Linked DNA regions of Homo sapiens: region 2 is linked to region 1. Evidence: fine-mapped expression QTL. A gene starts in region 1. The other region holds a variant in brackets. All regions are shown on one strand. Distances are from middle to middle. Region 1 holds the start of BCL10 (BCL10 immune signaling adaptor). Region 2 overlaps DNAI3 (dynein axonemal intermediate chain 3).

Region 1 (8,535 bases):
TGGAAAGATGTGTGGGGAATAGGGAGTGTTCGAAAAATGAAAGAAATAAAGAAAAAGGACACCACAAAAAAGCAAACCTAGATTTGAGAAGTGCCTAAGAGCTTAATTAGTAGAAAATCCATGTTGATCTCAATAAATGGCATTAATAATTTGGTACCGGTGACTGTATTTTAGCTCCTCTATTTACTAGATATATGATCTTGGGCAAGTAATTAACTCCTCTGTGCTTGTTTCCTCAGCTGACTGTTATATGAGGAATAAAGATATGCAAAGTGCTTAGAAAAGCGCTTGGTACATAGTAAGTGATCAATATATGTTAGTAATAATGACAAAGGTAATGGCAGGAAAGTAGGCTAGGTGAAGGGTTCCTGTGGTTCTTGGTCTACGAAGTTCCACATTTACTTGTTTATTCACATGACAAGTATTTTACAAATCTAAATTCCTAATATGCCGAGTGCTGAGCACTGAGTATACAAAGATGAACAAGATTTGAATCCTACATGCAAAGGGCTCATGGTCTAGCTGGGAATACATATCACAGGTAATAATTATAAAACAATGTGATCGGGCCCAGAAAAAAAAGATTATAGGTCAAATACAGGAAAAGCACAGAGTGAGCAAATAACTATGTCCAGGACCTGGTCCTTATCATATCTGGCATGGACTATTAACAATAGAAACCTAGCTGCACTTACTACTTCCTTCCCCCTCCTCAACATTTCTCCTTCAGGAGAAAATGGAAATCTGGAGTATTATATGAATTTTACTAAATTTTTTTTAAGGATCTCACTCTGTCACCTAGGCTGGAGTGCAGTGGCTTGATCATAGCTCACTGCAGCCTGGAATCCCTAGACTCAAGTGATCCCCATCTTAGCCTCTTGAGTAGCTAGGACTACAGGTGTGAGCCACCATGCCCGGCTAATTTTTAATTTTTTTTTTTTTTTTTTGTAGAGAAGGGATCTTTGCTACATTACCTAGGCTGGTCTTGAACTCCTGGCCTTAAGTGATCCTCCCACCTTATCCTCCTGAGTTGTTGGGATTATAGGTGTGGGCCACTGTGCCCAGCAAATTCTAATATTGAAATTTTGTTAATTTAGAAAAAAAATTAAAAACAATGTTCTGCCCTGTCTTAAAGGATAAAGTTCCTTTACGTGGCAGAAGAGTAGAAAAGTTAAGGGCATGGCTCTAAAGTTGGATCAACCTCAGTGCAAATCTTGAATCTAGTACTCACCCTTGTGAGAGCTGGGCCAAGTTACTTCACCACTCCAAGCTCCAGGTATGTTATTGATAAAATAAGGATTAAAAACTTAACTCACAGGACATCAAGGAGGACTAAATGGGAATACTATATATGAAGGCCACGCATAGTCTCTGTACACAGTAAGTACTCAATAATAACTAATTATGGAAGACAAGGTTCATTGATAATATGGCTCCTACCTACCTCTCCAGCTTAATCTATCACTACCTTTGTCCTGAAAATTTATGCTCTACCTAAAACTATCTGTCTCTCTACATTTCCTTACGTATTTTTTGTCTGCTTTTATCAGACCCTAAAGCCCCTATTCGTCCTTTAAGATTTAGGTCAGTGGTCATCTTCTTTGGAAAGGTTTACCTAACTCCCCAGAATGAGTTAGGCACCCCGTCCTCTGTCCTTGTAGCACCTTGTGTATACACTTCATCTTTCTATACACCAGGACTCCACTTCTTTCACCTCATTTCCCAATTCATTCCCAGACATTTCCATCCTGCCCCAGTATTCTTCTCGAAGTCACCAATGACCCCCTTATTGCCAAATATTTTCAGTCTTCATTTCATTTTTCAGCTGCATAAACACAGTTGACTACTCCCTCCCTGAAACAAGAAAATTGTTACATGAATACCACACTCTCCTGGTTTTCTTCCCATCCCTGTGGATACAACTTTTCAATCATTTTCTTGTTGTTGTTGTTACCCTACTTTCAAGCTAACAATTCACTTTTTAAAATTCTTCTCTTTAAAGGGTTTTACACCATTTTTCTCTTCTAGCTCACAGCTTTCTAGGTAAAATCATTCAATTCCACACTTACATTTCTAGCTCAGATCTCTCTTCTGATCTTTGACTTTGCAGATGTAATTGCTGATCTGACATTTCCATGTACTAATCTAATTACATCCTCTTCCTCAACTCCCATGTTCAATCCATCACCAGGTCATATCATTTCTATTTCAAAAACTGCATCTGGAATTCTGCTCCATTCATCTCCACTGCCTTCACCCTGATCCAAATCACCATCCTCATTCATCTCTATAGATTCCAAGAGCCTGCTCACTGGCTTCCCTGTTCTTATTCTTGTTCTCCTCAGTCCATGAAACAGGCAGAGGGATCTTTAAACTATACAATTCTTCAACAAGTCCCTACTATACTTGGGGGGAAAAAAACCCCAGATACTTTACTAAAAGGCTCTTCATGAAAATGGCTCTAGCCCACCTTCCTAACTTCACTTCAGATTACCCTCTGCCTTCCTCCGATTTCCCCAAGTCACCAGGGTCTTGCCTATTTTAGGTCCTTGACAAATTCTATTCTGCCCAGAATGCTCTTCCCTCAGTTCTGTCAAATCTTTCAGGAATCAGTTTAAATATAACCTCTCCTGACCATCCTATCTCAAGTCGATTTCCCCTATTATTGTCTTGGCACTGTTTGATTCCTTCATAGTAATTGCAATAATGAAAACAAAATTTATTTATTTGTTTTAAACTAACGTCTCTGTTTGAAGCAGGCAGCTACGAGGTATGTTTTAGCCAACACTGTATATCCTGCACTTACTAGGGCACCAAGTAGTTAATGTTTCAGTTGAATGCAAAACTCACTGCACTTATTTTGTGATTTAAAACAATCCCCCTCAAGAAATTGAGCTCTTTTCAAGTTAGGATTGTGTTTTCATTTTTAATTTTTGAACTGTTAGAACCAACCACAGTATCAGCCTCACAGTAGCATGTAATCCATATTTATTAAACTGTACTAAATCCAACTAACACAATGAGGCAAATAACTAGATAGGAGGAGGGGGAGACACTAAAGAAGTGGGAGGTCCCAAGACAAAGGGTGGTAGCACACCATTCATCAAGAAAGGCAATACAGCAGCAACAGTAAGCAACTTTGGGAAAAGGATAGTAAAAGTTCAATATTTGACAAGGTGAGCAATCTGTAGGATATAAAAGTAGATTTCCAGTAGACATTTGGAAATAAGGACCTAGAGTGGAGAGAAAAGTCCAAATATGTGGATAATTTTAAAACTCTCTAAGATCAGAAGACATTTTGAAAATATCATGAAAAAAACCTCTAAGAAAAAAGCATGCACATAGTTTCTTTCATAGACCTTTTGAAACCCATCCATGGTTTCCTCAAGGTTATTTATTTCTGATATAGGCGTAAAATGAAATCCTGAAGACAGATAACATCAATGAATTGACAGAGAAGAACAAAGACCTGGAAGCCACTCTTCACATCTGTACTTGTATACAGATCTTATTTCCTTCCACTTGTAATTTCTCAGTTCCTGTTTTATTAGCTGTAAAATGGGAATGGCAATTATCTTCTTTAGAGGTTGTTGCGAAGGTTAAGTGGGAACATTGTAAACTGTGTGACACAGCATCTGGAACATAGGAGGCCTAGCTCTTGGAAGTTCAAGGTTTTACTGGCACTCACCATGAATAAGACAACATTTATTCTACAGTAGTTATTTATGTTCCATTCTTATCTCAACTAGAATGTAAAGCAGGAAACTGATCTTCATTTTTTTGTATCCTTCCAGACCCAAGGCCAGTGCTTTCCATATAGCAAGTGCTCCATAAATCTCTGTTGAATGAGGAAACTAAGCACAACTCCCAGTCATATCCAGTTTCCTTCTGCTGGTGAGTCACACCAATTGTGAGTACAGTGTAATAAACCTTACAGGGAAGAGGAAGGGATTTGAAGTGGATGAACATTTAAAAAGTTGCCATCCTGTCCAGTTCATCAAAATGACTTTGTAAAAGTACTGCAGTGTTCAATAAGAACACGTTTCATGTTGAGTTTCTGTTTTTCATTTGACTTCAGATAAAGTATTTTAGTGATACTCATATAGGTCTCATCTGACAAAACAAGTAAACGCAAAGGAAAAAGAATGTCATATCTCAACAAAGCCATTCGTTACGAATAAATATGAAGGTTTATGTGGTTCTGCACCATCCGAGAAGAGCATAATTTAGCTACTGAATATTTTCGACGTTTACCTGTACATTAATTCTCAGCTACGTGTATTCACTCCCCCAACCCCAATTTAAATATGTGGGCGTCTGCTTACTAGGGGAATTCCAGGTTGTGCTTTCAGCTGTTGAGCTTCCTCAAGCCCCCTTATGCAAAAGAGCTTCACATTTTTGGTCCACTGCTTGGGATCCTTCACCTGGTACAGCCTTCGCTCTAGGCTGAGTGAGCAGCCTAGGCAGCCTGACTTAAGGATGAATCTGAGCCGCCAGTCCCTAACGAAGCATCTCCAAGAACCCAGTTGGGGGGAAAGCATGAGGAGATGGGTGAGGAGTGGGCAAGAATCAAAACACCACTTGGCAACAAAGCCCAAGCTCTGCGTTTAGCGATGTAAAACCTGGATTGACAGATCACTGGAGGATCACTGCCACCAAGGTCCCTCGGATGCAGGGCTCGCCACAGTCCTCCTGTGCTAGGACTTTCCGCTCCTCCGACCTGGAGGATCCTCCTTGTCCTCGGACTCCAGGCTTCCGCTTTCGTCTCCCGCTGGGCTGCAGCCCGCCCCCGCCCGCCCTGGGCACAGCTGCGTTACTCACGTCCTTCTTCACTTCAGTGAGGTCCTCCTCGGTGAGGGACGGTGCGGTGGGCTCCATGGTGGAGGCGGGAGATGGCGCTTCTTCCGGGTCCGGGAGCTCGGGCTGCGCCGCCCCGCCCTGGCTGGGGGCTTCGGCCTCCGGGTAATGGGGAAGAAGGAGAGGAGGCGGAGCGGGTCGGGAGAAAGACGGCCGCCCCTTCGGGAACAGAGGGACTCGGGGGTCAAACCGTAGCGCTTCCGGCCCCGCCTCTGAGGTCGACGGCGACGCGAATCTACGCGACGCGACGCGGAGCTCGGAGCAGCGTTCCTTCCCTCTCGTAGAGGCTCAGGCGCAGGCACCGCCCCACGGCGAGGCGCGTCGCTTAGCAGAGCCCGCCCTGTCTCTGCGGCAGCCTATCGACGCCAGCCCGCGGGCCGATCCTGTTCCCGCCCCCGACCGGAGCCTTTCGGGTGGCTCCGCCCACAGCGGGCGTTTCCTCAAGCCACGCCTGCGCAGGTCGTCGGTAAGTGGCCCGGGTTAGCTTCCTCATAAGGCATCGTTTCCGTGGGTGGGGTCCGTCAGTGCCCAGGCAGCTGGCACTCTCAGCCTTTGCTGCCTGCTCACTTCGGGGGAGTCCGGTCTGGGCTTGTCAGTACCTTGGGTTCCTCCCCTTTTCCCAGACCCTGCCCTACAATTTCCTGTTGTTACGTTTGCCAGTTACTGTTTTGGTCACACACAAACGCACTCATACACACATACACATGCATACACACAAACAGCCTAACTACAATACTAAACAAATTTTTGAAAGAAAAAAAGAAACCACCTACAATCCCACCACTTTAACACCTCATTTAACGTTTGCATACTTTTTGGTCACTGTTCATTATAAACATAGCTTTTCCTCATTAGTTAATCTGTGTAATGGAGATAGATATGCTTACCTTTTAGGGCTGCCGGGATCATATGTAAAGTTCTTAAAGGTAGTTGGGCACACAGTATGCACTCAACTGATTATTTATTTATTTATTGAGACAGGATCTCACTCTGTCGCCCAGGCTGGAGTGCAGTGGTGCGATTCTCGGCTCACTGCAGCTTCCACCTCCAGGGCTCAGGCGATCCTTCCACCTCAGCCACCAAGCAGCTGGGAGTCCAGCTAGTTTTTTTGTATTTTTTATAGAGATGGAGTTTCGCCATGTTGCCCAGGCTGGTCTCAAACTCCTGGGCTCAAGCCATCCACCCGCCTCGGCTTCCCAAAGTGCAGGGACTACAGGCATGAGCCACCCAGCTCATCCTACTCAAACATTTATTGAGTCCTTACTAATATGTTCTAGGCAACTTATACTATGAGTCCTCCATTTTATAGGGGGAGACTGATGAAGAGACGACTATCCCCAGACCGTATTTTAACTACTATGGCGCTGTGTAAGAAGCAACCTGAGAAGTGTGGATGAAAAGCTACAGGTAGAGCCCTGGGCCCAAGACGGTGGCTTGGACAACATGCTAAATAAACTATAAACTAGATGGTATTTGAAGCTACGAGAGTAGATAAAAATGACAGGAGGACCAAGGAGAAACTTGGGAACGCCAATGTTTAAGAAACGGGAAAGCAAAAAAAAAAAAAAACACACACAAAAAAACAATGTAACCAGAGCCACAAAAACCAGAATCACAGCAAGGGATTCTGATGTTTACATTATGTCCTGTTTCCATGTTGACACATTACACAAGGACAGTTTTTTTCTAATTGCTTAATTTTTCATCATCTTCCATCCGATTTACTGAACCATCCTTAACTTTAGGATGAATCCTTTCATTTAACAAATGTGTTTTGAATGTCCACTATGTGCCAGACACTGTTCTAGGTGCTAGGAAAACAGCTGTGAACAAAACCAATAAAAATCTCTTTCCTCATGGAATTTATATTCTAGTTTATTTGTGTTTGGGGCAGACGAGGTAGGCACTTGAAAAATTTTATCTAAGTTTATTTATTTATTTATTTGGAGACAGAATCTCGCTCTGTCACGCAGGCTGGAGTGCAGTGGCACGATCTCTGCTCACTGCAACCTCCTCCTCCCAGGTTCAAGTGATTCTCCTGCCTCAGCCTCCCCAGTAGCTGGGATTACAGGCGCATGCCACCACACCCGGCTATATCTAAGTTATTTTAAAAAAATAATTAATTAATTTATTTTTTTGAGACGGAGTCTCACTCTGTTTCCCAGGCTGGAGTGCAATGGCACCATCTCAGCTTACTGCAACTTCTGCCTCCCGGGTTCGAGCGATTCTCCTGCTTCAGCCTCCTGAGTAGCTGGGACTACAGGCACACACCACCACGCCCAGCTAATTTTTGTACTTTTAGTAGAGACAAGGTTTCACCACATTGGCCAGGTTGGTTTCGAACTCCTGACCTCAGGTGATCTGCCCACCTCAACCTCCCAAAGTGCTGGGATTACAGGCATGATCCCCCACGCCTGGCTATATCTAAGTTATTTAATTTATTAGAAGATGATAAATACTAAGAGGAAAAAATAAAACAGGGAAGTAGGATGAGGCTGTATGGATTGGTAAAATTTAAGCTAGGGTGGTCATGACCTCCCTGCTCACTTTGGAGGAGTCTGTCCTTGTCTTGTCAATACCAAGATAAGGGATTTGATTTATGCTTAAAGGAAGTGAGGGAGTGAACCGTGTGGATATAAGGAGAGAGCATTATGAGTACAGTCAGCAACCAATAAAAATGCTCAGTGTAACTGGAAGGAGATGATCTCCTTGTGTGTTGAGTCATATGGGTGTGCTGAGTCAGACGGGAAGCCACTGGAAGGTTCTGAGCAGAGTGACATGATCTGATTTGTGATTTGAAAAGAAGCACTTTCACTTCTGTGCTAAGGGGAAAGAAGATGGAAGAGGGAAAACCATTTAGGGAGGTATTGCTATATCCAGGCCCCAGGAGGTTGTGGTTCAGACCAGGGTGGAGCAGTGAGGGTGGTGGGAGCATTTTGAAATGAAGCAAGGAAGCAGTTTGATTTCATTTTGAAAGGATCACTCTGGCTGCTAAGTGGAGAGTAGATGGCAGGGGCAAGGGCAAGAAGCAGAGACTACGTGGAGGCTACCACAATGTCAGGTTCACGACTGAGCCAAATGTCATGCTTGGGGTCAGGTTCTAGCCCATGCTGAGGTCCAAGGGGAGTGGGTGGATGAGCAGAAAGAACACTCAGGGGACCGTAGGCAGGTAAAAGATGATTTTACTCAGCAGCAGCTCTCATCAACAGCTTTCTTACACTAGCTCTCTACACTGTCTGCCCTGTCTCAGGTGCTTAGTCTGGCGGCTCCCCCACACAGCTGCATGGCCGACTCTCCCTTGCCTTCGGGGTCAGCAGCTTAACTCTTCCTCTCTCTGGGCATGAGCAAGCCGAGCTGTGTCCTGGCTCCCCACTGTCAGTCTCCAAGAGGGTCAACTCTGGCTCTCTCTCTCTCTCTCTGGGTGTCAGCACGCCTGCACGATGTCAACAGGGCAATTATACCTTTTACAGACAATAGTGGCTTAGAGCCAAGGGATGGCCTTCCCATGTTATGGCTACATAGCTGTGATAACAAGTGGAGTTATATGCCTGCGCTCTAAACTCGCTGAGTCCCTGTGGATGTTTACCTCGTCCTATCCTTGACCAAAGCACAGCCATGTTCCTTACACACAGCCATCCAGGCACAGCTTAGGATGGCTTGACCAGGGTGGGGGCAGTG
Region 2 (8,000 bases), 180 kb before region 1:
TAGCTGGTATGAGGTAGAGAAAGTAGGATATGTGATTATATTGGAGGGAGTCAAGAAAAATCAAAGATGAAGTTCAAAGAATAATGACAGTGAAAGCAAATGCCTAGTGTTCCCACCACATACCAGGCATTCTTCTAAGTGCTTTACACACATCAATTCAATCCTCACAAGTGCTCTCTGAGGTAGGCACTATCCCCATTTTACAAATAGAGAAACTGAAGCAAAGAGAGGTTAAAAATGAAAGCCCAATGTTTCGGGCATAATTTAAACTTGAAGCAATAATGAATGGTTTTGCTGAAAAACAACAAAACAAATCATATTTCGAAAGTAAGAGTGACTCTTAGGCATGTTGCTACTTTGATAAAACCACCAAGCAATATATCATTTTGTTTTTTTTTTACTTAACCCTGTCTAGAGAGCAGAAATTAAAAGGTGAAGCTGAGAATTGAACCCAAGTCTCTCTGGTTCCAATACTAATATTATTTCTTTCTACCACTCTGCCTTCTGCTATGGATACTGACCTAAACAAGGAAAAAAAATGAATTATTCTAAAAACTCCCTTTACCCCTTTGTCTGATTACTCTCCATTTAATATATTACCTCTCACAGAGACATTCTGCATTGTGCTGACATTTGTTCAACAAACACAAATACTACATAATATTTTGTTGATCATTTAAAATGTGCTAGGCACTGTTTTTAAAGTTTTGCATGTATCAACACATTCAATCCTTACAATGACACTATGAACTAGCTACTTGAATAATTTCATTTAGAGATGAGAACACAGGCACAGAAGGTTAGATAATTGGCTCAGGGGTCATATAGCTAGTAAATGATAGAACCAGGCTTCAAAGCCAGGCAGCCAATCACCAGAATCCACACTCTTAATGATTGTGCCCTGTGACTTTTCCAAGCTCTACATGCCAAGATCAAGGGCTCACCCAGTCTAATACTTGAGATTGATAAAGCCCAGAGGTACAATGCCATATGAGGTGTTCACATACAGAGGCCACTAAGAGCATACTAGATGGAGCAAGACTTCCTGCCACCATCACTGCTGAAATGTATCTTATTCCTAGTTTTGTATGTTTAGAGCAGAGTTTCTCAACTTCAACAAATTGACATTTGGGGCTGGATAATTCTCTTTGAGGGAAGGCTGTCTTGTGCTTTGTAGGGTTTTTAACAGCATCCCTGGGATCTATTCACTAGACACCAGTAGCATGTCTAGGTTGTGACAACCAAAAATGTTTCTAGACATTGCCAAATGTCCCATGAGGGGGTGAGGTGGACACTGACTTAGTGAAATGAAGAGAGAGAGAAAACAATAAAGATGGCAAAATGTTAATAATTGACGAATCTGGGTGAAGGGTGTGTGGGAATTCCTTATACCCTTCTTATAACTTTTCTATAAGTTTGAAATGATTTCTAGGTAAAAATTTTACAAAAATAAGATTTTTTTGATTATGTTGGAGAGAAATTCATGTAGCCTTTGAATAGTGGTCAATATCAGTTGTCTAGGATAAAGAAAATTCAATGTATATAATTTAAATATAAAATAATATCCTAACATCATTGTCACAGAGACACACTTTTGACCTGTTGTGGCCCATATTTGCTCTTCTTTGACCTAATCTTTAGTATTGAATTTTCTTTTAATATATTAGGACATATCCTAAAAATGCTACTACGCAATATTATCCAAGAGAATTCTCAGAAGAGGAAAAAGAGACACTCAAACAATCAAAGCCTTTGGTTGATTTTCTTAACAATGCATCCATAAGGTAAAAAATTGCATATTAAATTTTAAAAATAAAACATAAAATGTATATGTTTACATAGAATAACAGGTCTAAATAAACAATTCCATATAGGGTATCTAGATAAAAAGTATGAAGACAGTTGTCAGTGTGACACATTCTACAGATTCTCAATATTTATTTCCTTTCTATTGCTAAGCAACATCTTAGCCCTATCAAGCTAAGGCCACATCAAACTGTGTGAGGAGTTGAGTGTGTGAGGATGTTTTCCTAATTGCAGATTAACATTTACTTGTATTTACCATGGTTACTTTTACGTAATTCTTTTTCTCCACTCCTCACTCCTCTTCCTCATTAACTTTTTATAGGATGAGGAGAATGCTGTGGCCATTATTATGATGATAAGTATTTGCAAAAATATCTTTGTAGATGAGAACCTGAATTTAATTCAAATGTCTTTTTGGACATTTCACTCTTATCACCAATTCCTGTGTTCCTGCACTCTTACTGGCTTTGAAAGAGAAGCATCTTCAAAATGCCCCCTAAGCTGTTAGTAGGACCCTGGGTAGAGTTCTGGGGCTTCTAAACCAGAGAAACAGCTTGACAAGTTCTCACCAAGCTGATACTAGAGTTTAGAGAAGTGGATCCACTGGAGGACAAGTCTGCCAGTTATACTCAATAGGCTGGTTTCTATTTCTTTCTAAAATTAAAAACTTGGTGGTCAAGTTCATATATAGCCCAAGTTAAACTTTTTTATTTTTAAGAAATGTCGTTGGTTCTTTCATACTGGATTAAATATCCTAAAAATTCCAACAACTCTCAAACTTGTTACTTATGCCTAGGGAGACTCTGGCTCAAAAATTCAGTTAATGATTCAGAGAGAACATTATTTGCCACTCGCAGGAAGGATGCTATAATTTTTGCTATACGGGCAATGAGATAGAAACAAGAAAACCTGAGTTTCACCCTCCCCTTATCAAAATTTAGTAGTCATTACAATTTTTCCTGTAAGAATATTCAAAATGAGAAGTTTGTTTACATATAATCAATATCCAGAGAAAACTAGATCTTGAGGGAATAAAAAAATGTTCAAAATAAATCCACATTGTATATTATCTTTAGACCTGGGCTTTTATTCTTCCCTCTGAATTTCCATGCTTATAAAGAAAAGAATAGTGGACAGCTTTATGATTCCATCCCTGAGATGTGGGAAGGAGAAGCCAGATCTATAAGAAGAAAGAGGAAAATTGGCACAGGAATTATAATAGCACTGGCCCAGAGTGGATAAGAAACCCATGTTTATATCACTGCAAACATAACTTCCAGCTTTAAAACTGCTTAAGCTTTATTCAATAGTTTTTAATTAAGGTAAGCCTGATTTTGTTCTGGAAGAAAGCCCTTTTAGAAATGGGAAATTTCTTTCTCATAGAATTTTATCTAAAACAAACTTAAGGGAAGCATTATTTGCAAAAGAAGGCAATGACATGAGATGAGAGAGAGGAACTTCAGGGGGATTCACAAAACAACTAAGAAACCTTCCTTTCGGGGTTAAAATTCCTAGACAACAGTTTTGCTAGCCTCCAATTTGTTACTCTCGGGAGCTACATGGTTCCAGGAAAGCAAGAAACCGGAAACCAGAAGAAAGATGTGTTTTCACTTCTTCCGTTTGAATTACTTCCCCGTTCTGGCTAAGGAGGTAGAATCAGGAAACCAGAGCGGAAGCCACGTCTTTAACTTTTCTCTTGAGAATTCCCTTCTCATTTGGGCTTAACCAGAAAGAAATATGATTTGGAAAATGCTTACTAATGCTTCTACTGGAAACTGTTTAAGCCTCGAGAGTCCGCTACACAGGGTTATTCAATGTTCAGTGTGCTTATGAATCACCTGAGGACTCTTGTTAAAATGCAGGTTCTGACTCAGTAAGTCGGG[T/G]GGAGCCTGCGACTCTGCATTTCTAACAGCCCCAGGTCATGTTGGTGGTCACTGGATCACACTTTAAGTGGCCAGGTCTTAGGAAAGGGGTCTATTTTGAAAGATGAAATACAAGAAGAATTTAACCAAGGGAGGACTCAATTAGGCAATGACTGGTAGTGTAATGATCAATGACAGGGGTATCAAACGGTGCCCTTTTTTATATTTTAGGAGTATCTGTTTTTACTGTTTATATTGAACTATCTAAAGGATTTTTTCTTATTTTAAGAAATTCACAATTGAGAACCACTTTTTCAACTTACCACACCTATATAAAACCAAGAAGTTTACAGTTTTGATCAGTAGGGTAAAACCTTGGGTGGCATTCTAATTGTGGGAGGGCTCTTAGCAACTTTGGGAGTATGCAGAGCTTTCAGATCTAAGCATAAAAAGGGACAATAACTATCATAGTAACTACTTTAAGACAGGAGCCTGTCAAACCAAGGTCCCTAGACTATTAGCAAATGATCCTAGCACTCAGATGGTATCTTAAAGGAGCAATGTTAGTATTTTTAGCAGGATAATTTTTCATTTTGGGGACTGTCTCATGCATTGCAGGAGGTTTGGTAATGGAATTAAACACAGTAGCACCTCCCAGGCATTGTGACAACTAAAACTACACACACACACACACACACACACACACACACACACACACACTTCTAAACTCCAATTCTTCCCTTGTTCAGAATCTCTTATTTGTTGTTTTGAATTACATATGTATTGGGGCTATCCTGTTAAGGATAAGTGATCATTTAGTACAGAATATGCCTAAGAAAACTGCCATTTGTGACAGTTGGGGCTTTCCAGGAAGCAAATGACATCAAGTTAGAGGCAGACGTTTACTGAGGATTACACTGTGAAAAATAAAGGAGGAGGAGACAGGACCGGGAAGGTAGAGCATCAGACAAATTCTCAGCCTACTCAGCAGGAGCTCCAGAGCAAAGATGCCTGCTGTGGGAGTGCTGCACAAGGAGGACTGGCCAGGCCCAGCCATCCCTGCAGCTGCATGCTCAGGCATTGGCCTGGAGAGAGTACAGCCTTGGCTTGGAAACTGAGGCAGATCATGAAGTTGCTCGAGGTTCTGAGTAACATGCCACCATGATGTTTTTTTCTCTTAAGTCATTTATTTCACATGAGGTTAATCATTATCACCAAATATAATTGAGAATTATTATTTTTTGTTCAGTATAAATGAAGGAGGAGGAGTTGCTAAGATAGTCACATTATTGGATACTAAAAACCAATATCTTAATTGCTTTTTTTATTTTTACAAATTAGTGTTGAAATAGCCCTGCAGCAAAATGAAATCATGAACACATTTATTGATGACTGGAAATACCTCGCAGAAGAAGAAGGCACCTTTGGGGACAAGACCGATACCCACCTGAAAGAGTACCAGTCCTTTACCGACCTTCATAGCCCAACGGAGAAAATGATTACCTGTGTCTCATGGCATCCAACTATCTATGGTGAGATGGAAATGATGGGGATTCCCTTTTGTGATAACATTGAAATTGTCTGTTGCTTTCATATGTAAAATTGCAAACTAGTTCAATGTCAATAAGACACCTTCCATTTGCTCTGTACTCACTAGGTACCTGCCATGTGCTTTCCACGCCCTCACTGTCATGTGTCCTCCCAACAACCCTGTAGGATACACACCTGTCATTATCTCTGTTTCACAACAAAAGGACCCAAGCTCAACTCAGGGAAGTGACTCGCCCAGGTCACCCAGATGGCATAAGGCAGAGTCTGGGTTGGGCTTGGGCCTGTTGCTCTCCCAAGGCTAAATTTCTTCCTCCTAACACTGCCTTTCTGATTACTAGACAAGAGAGGAAATGTGCCTCCTTTAAAGAGCTCAGCAGCCAAGGGAGGTAGGTAGGGATGTGCAAAGATGGAAACATGGAAAGAGAGAGGTATTTGTCCTCTTTCTTCCTCCTTTCACCCTACACTGGCCCTTTTCTCACAAAAAAGAAACAAAACAAGATTTTCTTTTCTTCCAAAATCTTCTGAGTCCCCTGTATATTTTATACTAACAGTACATGTCAGTTTGGACCAGCCAGATTTCAAGTGCTAAATAAGTAGCATGTAACTAGTGGCAACCACATTAGCCAGCAGAGCTCTAAGAAAACTCTTGCTCTCCTGTGGACAAAGTGTAAATGAAGAGTGGCTGTGTAGAAAAGCAAAAGCTAGAGACATCTCTCCATGTATAGTTGCTGCCAACTTTAATTTCTACATGTGTTTCCATCAGGGCTAATAGCTGTGTCGGTAGCCGTGCGACTTTCTTTTGAAGACAGAGTTCACTTTTCTGGTAAATTATTGCTGCAGCCATCACTGATTCTTTTCTGGAGCTTCTCTGATCCTATACATCCTCAGGTAATTAGGGAGAGTTGCCTACATAGCCTAAATTTTCAAATACTACTTTCATGTATACCTTTAGCAGTTTTTATTGCAAAGTACTTTATAATCATGTAATGTTGTAAACATTTATAAAGTTAGGCTTTCTTCAATGCAGAACTTGTCATCATTCAATTTGAGCAAAACTAAAGTTTACAATTTGTTTATTGAACAAATCAACATGCTATTTTTTTCAAAGATTGTAAGAGGAATGTTTAAACTATTTTTAAAACAAACTCTTTTATGGACTTTACTTGAATACTAATTGGTCAAATGCAAATAGATTTTAGTTTCACATGAGTTTCCTCAATTCCAAGGATCACTGGGTAATAAATAAAGGTGAATGTGTGGGAGAGCACTGGGGAGTGGTAGGGACTGCGGCCTTGGAGAGTGCATTATCCATCTCTAGGCTGGCTGCCCTCTTGTTGCCAGGTGGTCCCATTGTCAAGAGAATTGAGAAATTTGGAATTTTGTATGAAATCGCCCAATTTTAAATAGCTCAACTAAAACCAAGCCAAAACACACAAAAACCCCACTCAAACCAACCAAAACACATAGCAATTCAAATAAAATGAGGCTGAAGGCTGGGTTTGCTACACAGGGTTCTAGTTTTCATGGTCTGCTCAATAAGAGATCTGCCTAGTGGGTGGGTGGTGTATAGTGTTAGATTAAGTTATTTCAATGTTTTAAATATAATAATATTTTGTTTCTAAAAAGTATTCATAATTAAGACTTTCCCTAAAAAACCCTAGCCTCCCCTTCTTCCTTTCCCCAATTCATTTGAATTAAGGTAGTTTTACTGTAATAGATTCTAGATACTTTAATGATTATAGACCCAGAGATCAAATTGAAAGATCTCTAGCCCTTTCTTGTCAGCCACAAAAACAGAGCCACTCTCTCACTAGAGTTTTCTAACCTTTCTACCCTGTAGATCTCCTCTCCACTCCAGGAGTGCCTGGCTCAGTATTCAGCAAGCAACAAAACAGACACAGATCCTGTCCTCACAGAGCTTCCCTTCCATGGTTTTCAGGAACACTAATTTCATAGTCTTTTTGTTATAAACATTGTAACATGCTCCCAAAATAACTACAATTTGTTTCCACTGAGGGGTGGGTTGGGGAATACCTGGGTCCCCTTGAGAACATACTCACTGTCACTCGTATGGCCAATGTGCACAATAAAATTAAGCAAAAGCAGCTTTTAGTCCAGAGGCAGAACTCTGAGAATAGACTCTCTACGCACCTTGCTTATAGATAGCTATAAAATTAGACTTTTAACTGTCTTAATATTATTTTCTCGCCATGATCTTAATCTCTTTTCTCATTCTTTCATGAATTTGCTGGGTTTACTTTAGTTAATGCTGGAGAGCCCAGATGACATCTTCTGCTTCAAGTTCTGTCCGAGTGATCCTAATATCATTGCTGGAGGCTGTATCAATGGGCAGGTACTTAACAGAATTTTTTTCAGCTATGTATTAATGTAGACAACCTTTGGTAATAAGTTTTGACTTGGCAGTTCCTTGGACTTAAGGATTCAATTCAGCAGAAGGAAGGCATGCCAATTGTGTGCCAGACACCACACCAGGAAGCAGGGTATAGAGACGTGTTACACACGGTATCAGCTCCTGAGGTGTTCACGGGGTAACCCAGCTTCAAAACTGAAACAGAATTGGGTGAAATCTATTTGTGTTGCTGGGACTGAACCACATATTGTATAAGATTCCATGGAAGAACAAAAGCTACAAGCATTACTACCTCTTGGAAAAAAAGGCCTCTTCTGAAATTTCCTTGGGAGTAGGAGTTAGGGGATGATCCAGAACTTAAACAGAAATTCACTAGAAAGCATACACACATCACTGAATTTATAGGCAGA

Evidence for each region.
Region 2: its variant is fine-mapped to the expression of BCL10 in testis (GTEx, PIP above 0.99).

The regions. Positions count from the first base shown.
Region 1 is chr1:85,271,475-85,280,009 of GRCh38, forward strand. It overlaps BCL10 (BCL10 immune signaling adaptor), which reads right to left and starts at 5,158. Exons shown (of 3, transcript NM_003921.5): 1 at 4,822-5,158. The coding sequence starts at 4,878. BCL10-AS1 (BCL10 antisense RNA 1) reads left to right here and starts at 4,884. Exons shown (of 2, transcript NR_045484.1): 1 at 4,884-5,323; 2 at 6,167-6,614. RefSeq lists enhancers at 4,351-5,550, 4,756-5,458, 7,867-7,976, 8,167-8,226.
Region 2 is chr1:85,088,449-85,096,448 of GRCh38, forward strand. DNAI3 (dynein axonemal intermediate chain 3) reads left to right here. Exons shown (of 23, transcript NM_145172.5): 8 at 1,668-1,784; 9 at 5,010-5,200; 10 at 5,983-6,107; 11 at 7,483-7,572. Among named protein-coding and RNA genes, the nearest start is that of DNAI3, 30 kb to the left of the region's middle. The variant T/G (reference allele first, on the strand shown) is at 3,690.